Regions from separate parts of the Homo sapiens genome. Here region 1 is linked to region 2. A link means that fine-mapping ties the variant in region 2 to the expression of a gene that starts in the linked region. Tissue or cell type: nasal epithelium. Region 2 holds a variant in brackets; the other region holds the start of a gene. All regions are shown on one strand. Distances are between the middles of the regions.

Evidence for each region. PIP is the estimated chance that this variant, and not a neighbour inherited with it, causes the effect.
Region 1: ACSBG1 starts here. The variant in region 2 is fine-mapped to the expression of ACSBG1 in nasal epithelium (TOPMed, PIP 0.98).

What each region holds. Positions count from the first base shown.
Region 1 is chr15:78,231,954-78,237,098 of GRCh38, forward strand. ACSBG1 (acyl-CoA synthetase bubblegum family member 1) reads right to left here and starts at 2,612. Exons shown (of 14, transcript NM_015162.5): 1 at 2,418-2,612. The coding sequence starts at 2,548.
Region 2 is chr15:78,206,799-78,211,943 of GRCh38, forward strand. ACSBG1 (acyl-CoA synthetase bubblegum family member 1) reads right to left here. Exons shown (of 14, transcript NM_015162.5): 2 at 1,204-1,304. Among named protein-coding and RNA genes, the nearest start is that of ACSBG1, 25 kb to the right of the region's middle. RefSeq lists an enhancer at 1,143-1,654. The variant G/A (reference allele first, on the strand shown) is at 2,831.

The DNA of each region.
Region 1 (5,145 bases), 25 kb after region 2:
TGTCAGAGCAGGTTTAGCTTCCCTGTTTGACAGATGGGGAAACTGAGGCTCAGAGAAGGTATCTTGCCAAGGGTCACAGAATGGGTTAGGAGCAGAGCTGGACTGGAACCCAAGGCATGTGACCTCCAGCCTGCTGCTAAGAGTGTTGCTATGAGAGTTACTATGCCTGTGATGGGTAACTCTTATGCTTTGAAAACATTTTCATACACATTAGCTGATGGAATCCACCCAATTTTTCTGCAATGTCAATGAAGTTCAGGCGTTGTATATTTATTTGTACAGAGGATGCTATTGAGGCTCAGAAAGGTTAAACAATGTATCCAAAGTCACTCAGCAAGAAAGTAGTAGAACTGACACTCCAACTCTTGGGTTTTTAGCCTTTCTCTTTCCCTACGGGGTCCCAAGACCCATTTACCCTTTCAGGAGGGAGTCCTTCTCTGCACAAGCCTAGGGTTCTGCCTCAAGTTTGCCTACTTTCCTTCAGTGATGTCTGCAAAACAAGCCCAGTCCTCTGTGAGCTTTGCAGGGCACACAGGACCCTCTGCCACCCCTTTTCACCACAGGCCTGAGACACAGGCTCCTGTGGCCCTGAGCCCCACTTGGCCCCTCACTCACAGGGAGCAGAAGACCCTGAGATCCTGCAGACCTTGATTTTGTTTTCAAAGACTCCCCTGGCCCTGGCTGTCCTCATGCCTGTCTACCCCTGCTCTGGGCACATTTATTTCTTTTTCTTCTTTTTTTTTTTTTTGAGAAGGACTTTTGCTCTCGTGGCCCAGGCTGGAGTGCAGTGGCACGATCTTGACTCACTGCAATTTCCACCTCCCGGGTTCAAGCAATTCTCCTGCCTCAGCCTCCTGAGTAGCTGGGATTACAGGCACGTACCACCACCTGGCTGTTTGTATTTTTAGTAGAGACAGAGTTTCATCACATTGGGCAGGCTGGTCTCAGAACTCCTGACCTTGGGTGATCCACCCGACTCAGCCTCCCAAAGTGCTGGGATTACAGGCATGAGCCATCATGCATGGCCTCTGGACATATTTCGATGTGCTCCTCTGAGCATCTCGCCTGGCCTTCCTGCTCTCTGAGCCCACAGACCCCAGGGAGGAGGGGAGGTGCCAGGACACCGGGGCCCAGAGGAGATCCTGAATCTGCCCTTGGGTGAGGAAGTCAGTCCAGCTTTCTTCCAGGGGCCCTTGACCCTCTGTGCACCTGACCTATGCCCAGGGAGGGGCTTGCCCTCATGCTCTTGGAGGCTTTGCAGGGAAGAGTCCCTGCTTCTGGAAGAACAGGAGTCCACTTTGGATTAGCAGGGTTCTCTGGAGACCCAGGGCAGGGCCCAGATGCCAGCCCTCGGAGGGGCCTCTGCATCTCTGAGGCGCATTAACATCTGTTCCCATTTCCCTCTATCTTCCTTCCCCATAACCTTCCATCAGGACAGGGGCTGTAGTCTTGGTAGCTCAGACACTGGCAATTCCTCCCCATTACTACAGAGGACTTGGACCCTGGTATTTAGCCCCTGTCCTCCCCAGTTCTATGCTTCCGCCACCCAGACCTCTCCCATCCCCAAACTTCCTGTCTTGCTTTGTTAGGTCGTTCTCTCTGCCCACTGCTCTTGGCTCCACTCTGACCGTCAAGGTCCATCTCAGGCGCCCCAGTTAGAAACCTCCTTCTCTCTGCCCCTTCGCCTGCGCCCCTCCTGGACACAAATCACAGATGTTGGGGTCCTGGAGTTCCGTGTGTGTGCGTGTGCGCGTGCGCCTGCCTTCTTCCTGCCTTCTGGCCAGGGCATCCCAGGGCTGGGACTGAGTCTCATCTTCTCAGGATCCCCTACTCCCTGGATGGACAGGGCCTGGGCCAGGGTGGGCATTGGTGAATGCCTGATACGTTGAATCCACTTCCTCTAAATCACAGATTACTGGAATATATACAGTGGAAGGGCTTTAGGGAAACCTCAGCCACTGCACTCATATTCAGACAGGGAAGCTACAGCCCACGGAGGGCAAAGGCACTTGCCAAGGTCACGCAGCAAACTGGAGCGGGAACCTCTGGGTCCCCACCAAAACTTATCTGTCTTTGACCCCCGCAGGCAAAAGTCCCCCTTGAGGAGACAGGGAAACATTCTTGACTGAAAAATTCCTCCTCCATCCAACTGAGATCCAACTGGTCTCCAACTGCAGCCCCAGCTCATACCCCTGGGATGTGCCTCATTCTTTGATGAGCCTTTCTTAGCCATGCTAAGTAGCCCTCCAAATGACCAGTTCTTCCATCTTACGGATCGCCCAGATCCTTCCCTTCATTTCCCAGGTGAAGAAACTGAGGCTCAGAGAGAGAAGCAGCTTGCCCAAGTTCACACAGCAGAGCAAAGTCTAGAACTCGGCCCACAGGTGCAGTGTGCAGAAACCCAACCAATGACTTACCTGGTTTTCAATTTTTCTTGGGTGGTCCTCACAATCATGTCCTGCCGGCTCTCCTGTGGGGTCTCTCTGCTGTCCAGCATGCTGGGGTCCCCGTGTGGGCAGCCGTATCCAGCTCCAGAATTGCGTGGCATCTGCCTCGGGCTTCCACTGAAGACAGCTCAGTCACCCACTGAGAGAGGCTAGCCTTGAGTGAGCAGTGGGGGTGGGCATGGGGCAGGGGAGGCGGCAACTAGAGTGACCCAAAGAGGCTCATTTCCTCTCTATTTTTAGAAGCTCAAAAAAAATTGCTCCTCAGTGAAGTTTCTCAGAATTAAAACTTTCCTTTTCTTTGTGGTTTTGTTTCTCTCAAGATGAGGAGAATTTCAATGAAGCCAGTGTTCTTTTTGATGCAAATCCGCTCCGCTTCTCCCAGGAGGTCTGGCCAATGGGCTCAGGGCTTCTGGGCCCCCAGAAAACCTCCTCACTGGCTTTAAAAGGTCATAGTGGTTCTCAGCACAAATCCAGACCCAGATCCTGAAGTGGCTGCTACCCCTGGCTGCATACACTCTGCAACCTTGACTTGCGGTCTGCCGAATGCTGCCCTGGGAGGGATCTCACCCACTCAGTCCCCCTCCCCCAGGTCCTGCATGGAGGCTGGAGACCCAAGGAGGGAGCCCACCCCGGGGGAAGGAAGGAGACATTTCCAACACTGAGACCACGCCACATGGTCTATAGAAGCAGTTGCACTGAAGACATGATAGAGGCAACCGAGGAATGTGACTTTCCAGGGACACATGAATAGAAGCCTGGATCTGTCCCTTCTTCTAAAGGAAAGAAGCATGTTAAGGGGGGCGGGGGGGTTTCAGGCAGCCATAAAGAGATGGGAAATTCACACAGGACAAGGCCTTTTTCTGAATACCAAAAGTCTCCCCTCTAAGACCATGTATTCATTCCCCAGGGCTGCTGTAACAAAGTTCCACAAACTGGATAGCTTCAAACAACAGAAATGTATTCTCCCACGGCTCTGGAGGCCAGAAGTTGGAAATGAAGATGTGCGCAGGGCCACACTCCCTCTGGGGGCTGTGGGCAGACTCTTTCTTTGCTTCTCTCCCAGCTGCTGGGGGTCACTGGCCATCCTGGGTGTTCCTTGGCTTGCATGTGCATCTCTCCAGCCTCTGCCTCTGTCCTCACGTGGCTGTCTTTCCTCTGTGTCTATGCCTTAGTACATTTTCTGTTGCTATCACTGAATACCTCAGACTGGGTAATTCATAACGAAAATAGGTCGGGTGCGGAGGCTCATGCCTTTAATCCCAGCACTTTGGGAAGCCAAGGTGGGAGGATTGCTTGAGCGTAGGAGTTCAAGACCATCCTGGGCAACATAGTAAGACTTTGTCTCTTCAAAAAATAAAACAGAATTAGCTGGGTGCCACGCCGTGGTGTGCACCTGTGGTCCCAGCCACTTGGGAGGCTGAGGTGGGATGATCACTCAAGCCTGGGAGGTTGAGACTGTAGTGAGCCATGATTGCACCACTGCACTCCAGCCTGGGCAACCAGAGTGAGACCCTGCCTCAAAAATAAAACAAACAAACAAATTTAAAAAAACACCAAAACACACACACACACACACACACACACACACACACACAAAGAAATTGATTTCTTAAAGCTCTAGAGGCTGGAAGTCCAATATTAAGGTGCCAGCATCTGGTGAGGGCTTTCTTGCTACATCATAACGTGGAGGGCATCACATGGTGAGAGGGCAAGAGCGTGGTGCCAGCTCAGGTCTTTCTTCTCTTATAAAGTTTCCAGTTTCAACATGGGACCCCGCCCTGATGACCTTGCCTAACCCTAATTACCTCCCAAGGGCTCAACTTCCAATCAACATATGAATTTTGAGGTTAAGTTTCCAACATATGAAATTTGTTGGGAATTTTCCCACCATAGCAGTCTATGTTCCTATTTTCTCTTCTTACATGGACACCAGTCATTGGAGTAGGGCCTTCCCTGATGCCAAAGAACCTCATCTTAACTATATCTGCAGAGACCCTATTTTCAAACAAGATCACATTCTGAGGCTCTGGGTAGACATGAATTTGCTGGGGGACGCAATTAAAATCCATATACATTGTGTACAGGAGGTGTTAGTGGGGATACCTATGAGATGTCCCCAAGAAGAAATAGGTCCAGTTGGGCCACAGGTGATGCTGTCTGGTGAAGGCAGGTGACTGAGAAAAAGCTGGGCTGCCTTCTAACAAACTCAGGGCACAGGCCACAGGCCCCCAAATGCTGCCTTCCTAATGCTGTTGAAGGTACACTGAGCAGGTCGTCTGGGGTCTAGCTGCAAGGCCTGAATCTCCCACTGACACGCCCTCAACCACGATCTTGGGCAGATCTCGGCCCTCTCCTGGCCTCAGTTTTAACTGCTTGAATCATGAGGGTGATGGCCTGAGGTGGGCCAAAGTGGCCACCAGCTCCAACTGGACGTGAGAAGGTGATGGGGAGTCCTTTGCCCATGGGCTGATTGGAGGGATCGAATGAGTCACCACTGTAAGTGACAAGTCAGTGTCTCCCCACCCGAGGAGAATCATAATCAGAGAAAAAGACATAGAATGCTCAGCTCTGAAGTTCAAAAGCCTTGGTCAATATGAAAGCCTGGGAAGGTTCGGAAAAATGTGTAAGTTGTTCATTCCCAACTCCCCTTCCTTCCCCATCCCTCAGATTCTTATAGATCCAGGGAACCAGGAAGGGG
Region 2 (5,145 bases):
GGGCTGGGGATTATGTGTTTCTCCCTCGGGATGCCAGATGCTTTTCTGGGGCTCCAAGGGACACGGAGCCTCCCCCACAAATGGCTCCCTTCCTGCCCCTTGAATTGCAGGAATGCCTGTGCCATCACTCATACTCAGGACTTGCTGAGCTCCACGGTTTTGCTGTGGCCCAGGCCCCTGGTGCCAACACCTGCTCTTTGAGCACCCCAGAGAAGGGATTATAAAGTCTGGGGTGTCTGAGCCTAAGCCAGTTGGTGGGACCTGCCCTAGGTGGCTCAGCAAGTCAGCAAGATGCCTTGGAATCCTGGGAGGATGAACGTGGGAGGCTCCCGGGACCAAGCTGTCCCTGTTCCTGGCCTCTCTCCGGTGTCTTTCAAACCATTCTCAGAAACCAGTTGGTCCTCTTCTTGGCCCAGTCCCTTCTCCTTTATCTCTGAGGTGAGGGCAGGGGGCATGAGAGGAAACACCCACCCCCACAGCTCAGGCCAGATCCCTGCCAAAGCCACCCAAGACACTCGGCCTGGGAGAGCGGCAGCTGGTCTGGCAGCAGTGACCCTCTGTGCTGGGTATCTATTGTTTTCTTTTTGTTTTTAAATTTCTGTTGTTGCTACAATGTTGTTGTGCAGCCAATAAAAGTGCACAAAAGATGTATTATTATTATTATTATCATTTTGATGACTCTTCAGAGTCAGAGTAAATAACTCTGCCTTCCTTAAGGCACAATTATTTGATGGTGGAGATCAAGAAGATAACATGTAATGTTTCAAGCCTCCAAAACAAACCTTTCTAGCCTGCACCCGTCTGCCTGCCCCTTGCCCCAGTTAACCAGGCCAAAAATCCCAAGGCATTGCTTATCTGGGCTTTCTCCTGTCCCTCAGCAACCCTTTGCTGGAGCCCCAAGTTCCCAAGGCCTGGGCCCAGATGATGTCCTACCTGTCTCTCTATCTCTGGCCTCTCTTCTTCCCAGCTTTCTTGAAGAAGAAATCTCCCCATCCCTCATTCCTTTCCATCACGCCTGGCCCTGATGGCAGCCATGAAGGAAGGGGCTTGGTGGGGTCCCTGGGAGCGTGGAACCAGCAAGATCCCCAGCTGCTCCTTCCCGCAGTTCTGTGTGGTGGTCCCCCACACCACCCACCCCTCCAGCACACCCAGCACAGCACAGTTTCCCGCCCTGCCCCACCCTACCACCCCCAGCTGGCTTACCTGGAGCATCCCACTGGGCATTATTCACCTTCTCTGGCACTGAGAGCTCGAGAGCATGGTTCAGGGACTCTTTGGAGAGTGGCTGCCTGTCAGTCAGTGAGCTGGGGTGGTGAGGGGACCAGGAAAAACATTCATTAGAACGTGGGGGACCGGCCTGGGCTTAGGGACTCCGGCCTGGCACACATCTCAGCACCCCCAGGGGGACACTGGCACCTCTGTCTCCTGCAAATGCTGGGGCCATCCACAGAGGAGAACCCAGTGGGAGTCAGGGGACAAGACCTCAGTGGTTGTAGGGGCTGACCCTGCCCCCACCCAGCCTCCCTCCAGGCTCTAAGGGCTCAGGAGAAAGGGAATTCAAGGCCTTCTGTGCTCTACTTTGTGGTGTGACCCTGGGCAAGTTCATGCCTCTCTCGGGGTCTCAGCACCCCACCTGGATGAGGACGGGGCTAAGGTCCGCACTGGAGGATTCTGAATGCCACTCCTGGAGAGGGCAGACTTTTGGGGCGGGGGTTCCCCCATCTGTCACTCCCTGTACCCACCAGTCCCCAGCCATGCCCAGAAACTGAGTGGAGCTGCAGGTACTCATAGGGCTCTCAGGGGTCCTATTCCGGCCCCCCAGTGAGGGCCTCCCCTCTTCCATGTGCTTGTGGGTGCACCATGCACCCCATGTCTGTTCACTCCATGGAGAAGACAGACATAGACGGGTCCAGGGAGACCTGAGGCCCAGGGCCTGACCCAGATCCCCCTCGCCTCCCAGGCTCGGTGACCCTGGCTAAAGGGTCTCCCCTTCTGGCCAACCCAAGTTTCATGGGTTTCTGGGCTTTCATTATCCTTTCAGCCTGACTGCCCTTCAGCACCATTTTTCCTCAGAGTTCACCTGGCCAGACCTCAACCTCCTAGATGGCTGAGCAGCTGGATTTCAGTACACACTTTAGGACTGCAACAGGATTATAGAACTCCAGAGACACATTTCACAGTCAACAACTACGTAAACAGAATCCACTGGAGTTGTGCAGCATGCAACCTGTGCAGCTGGTCATGGTGTCCCTGAGGGTAGGACCCTGGCTCCAGGGAGCCCTGTCTGTCAGTTAGGGTGGGGCTAGCCCCATCCCTGCCCAGTTCCCAGGAAGCCGGGCCAATTACCTGCTTCTCACATTCAGCCTCACTCCTTGTCGGCACTGCAGGTTCCGAACAAAACTAAGTTTGTGAACACACCTAGGCCCACCTGGCAGCCATCTGCTTAAGAACCTGAGATAGGTTTTAAAGCGAAAGATATCAGAAGGTTATGAAGGGAGGGGGACGGGGAGAAGGGGGATGACTGGGGAACCAAGGTGGCGCCGTTCTTGCGAAATTTGTGAGCAAGGCCTGGGCCACAGGCCTGGAGCAGCCCTTCCATTGCTATGGCGACCCACTCCAGGGAGGTTGTGGAAAAACTGAAGAGATGGCAACGTGTGCTTCCGGGGCGAGGCCTCCTGTGCCGGGCAGACAGAGGCGTGTGAATGCTGCAGAACTCGTCCTACTGACTTTGGATCCTTGGTTACAGCTCTCTGGGATAGCCAGGTAGAAGCTGCCTCCACTTTGGGCCGCAATGTTACCAAATGGCCCCTGAGCTCTGGGTTCAGGCAGC[G/A]ACGGCAAACGAGGGACACGTACACTGCTAGGCTCAGAGGCCTGCACTGTGATCATCTGGGGAAGACTGTGAACTTGGTTGATGTCCCTGCCCCATCTCAGCCTGTGTTCTCAGAGGACGGTGGACAGCACCCCAGGTTAGAGTTAGCAGCTCTAATCAGCCTCTGAGATCACCAGCTGGGCGGCCACCTCCACATTAGCCAGGCAGGAGGCTGTCCTTGGCTGTAATGTCCCACCATCTGAACTGCTTCCTCACAAACAAACCTGTTTTTAAATCCTCCTAATCAAAAGGTATGGGCAGCACTTCTCTCCCCACAGAAAATTAGTGTAAACTGGTTCTGGTTTTAAAATAGCTACACAAAGACTAAATGAAAAGACAGCCACCAAAGGAAGCCAAGGGTCAAGCGTACTTATCGTGATTAGAACCTTCTGTTTATAGGGACGATGAGGCTGTTGGCAGCACCTTCTTGCTGCGGGTGGGTGCCTTTTCCTGGAGGGGCAGCACCCAGTGCAGTGTCAAATTTCTTGTTGCTCAGACACTGATCTTGTCCAGCAACCATGGTCAATGAGAGGGTGGACCGTGGCCCTCTGCCAGCATCAGTTTAACAAGAACACCTTCCTTATCCCTGTGGCTGGCTCAAGGCACTGATTCAACTCTCTATGCCCTATGCTTACAGAATTTGGGGCGCATGATTAAAAGAATGTCAAAACCTAATTCTCCAAATGAATTAAGCCTGATCTTTTCCTCACTAGGGGCTTTGAGAGGTGGTCCCTTTGAAGAGATGTCATCCGAAATAGAATGTGCTAAACCTCCAGTAACTTCCTGCTCACACAGAGTTATAACCAGTAACAGGCTTTCCTGACCTGACTTGTCACACAGAAACAAGTGAAACTGCTCGGGCCATCTGCCTCTCCTCATTGTGAGTGCTGTCTCACACTCGTTGTTGTTCGTAATGGTCGTCTTTCAGTTTTTATTTTGTATGTATGTATTTATTTATATTTTGCAGACAGGGCCTTGCTCTGTTACCCAGGCTGGAGTGCAGGGGCACAATCACCACTCACTGCAACCTCAAACTCCTAGGCTCAAGCAATCCTCTCATCTCAGCTTCCTGAGTAGCTGGGACTACAGGACAGCACCACAAAACCTGGCTAATTTTTGTATTTTTTGTAGAGACAGGGTCTTGCTATGTTGCCAGGCCTGGTCTCCAACTCCTGGGCTCAAGCGATCCTCTAGCCTTGGCCTCCTAAAGTACTGGGATTATAGGCGCAAGTCACCATGCTCGGCCATTTTTTAGTTTTTAATCCTCTCCTCTGTGACTAGCAGTCACTTCTTGCTACTTTCAGTGTGCTGGCTTCTAGCAATTCATCTCACTCCTACATTGCCATTTCTTTTTGTAGCAGAATAGAAAACAAAACAGCCAAGCTCGTTAGAACTTAGGTTACATTGGGGGACAAGTTCCACAATGGAACCTATCATGTTTTCTTTGAAGAAAAGAAGCTAAGGTTTGGGAAGCTGCCCCTACTCTGTCTTAACTCCTCAAAAGCATTTTGGGCCCTTCTCCTGATTCTTGCTGCTATTCCAGGAAGGACAGGTGGCTGTAAATGATCCTACAGGTGAGTTGATATTACTGTCATTGTGATCATCATGAGCACGCCGAAGGCGATTAACATATTATTCCTGTCATTCTGGAAAATTATGCTCCTTCTGGAAGGCAATACTCCAGAGGTTGGCGGAAGTCACCTAACATGATTAATGACAATAATGGTGGAAGAACGGCCTGAGGAGGCTGACTGGCTTCTGTCTGCATTTTGAATTCCCAGGAGGAAGAAGAGCTTACAAGGTTGGCCCTTTTCACTCGTCTTTGAGGACGAGAACAAGGATTCATTCTCTGACCTCAGCTCACATAAGCACACTTTAAGCTCATCGCCTTGCTCTCCTTTCACAGAAAACAAAAACACTTTATCAGCAGCTACCCAGCAGCATGGGAACAAGAAAACAAAGGGCGTGTTTGAGCAAATATGATGTAAGATGTGTGGGGGGCAGAGGAGCCTGGGAGCGTCTGCACTGCGCCTTTCTCTTAACCATCTCTTGGTGGATTGGTGTCTCCTTACTCCTTCTACCTTGCCAGAGGAGCTGATGGGAACCATTTGCACACAGAGCCTCCCAAGCCTCCTTCAACTCCTCCTGCAGGAAGCCCTCCTAGATTTCCCCAACACCCTCTCACCCCTGTGGCCCTTGGATACTCAGGTTTGGGCTTTGATGGTCACACATGGCTTGACAGCTGGGGCCGCTTCTGATTCAGCTCTGTCCTCTGG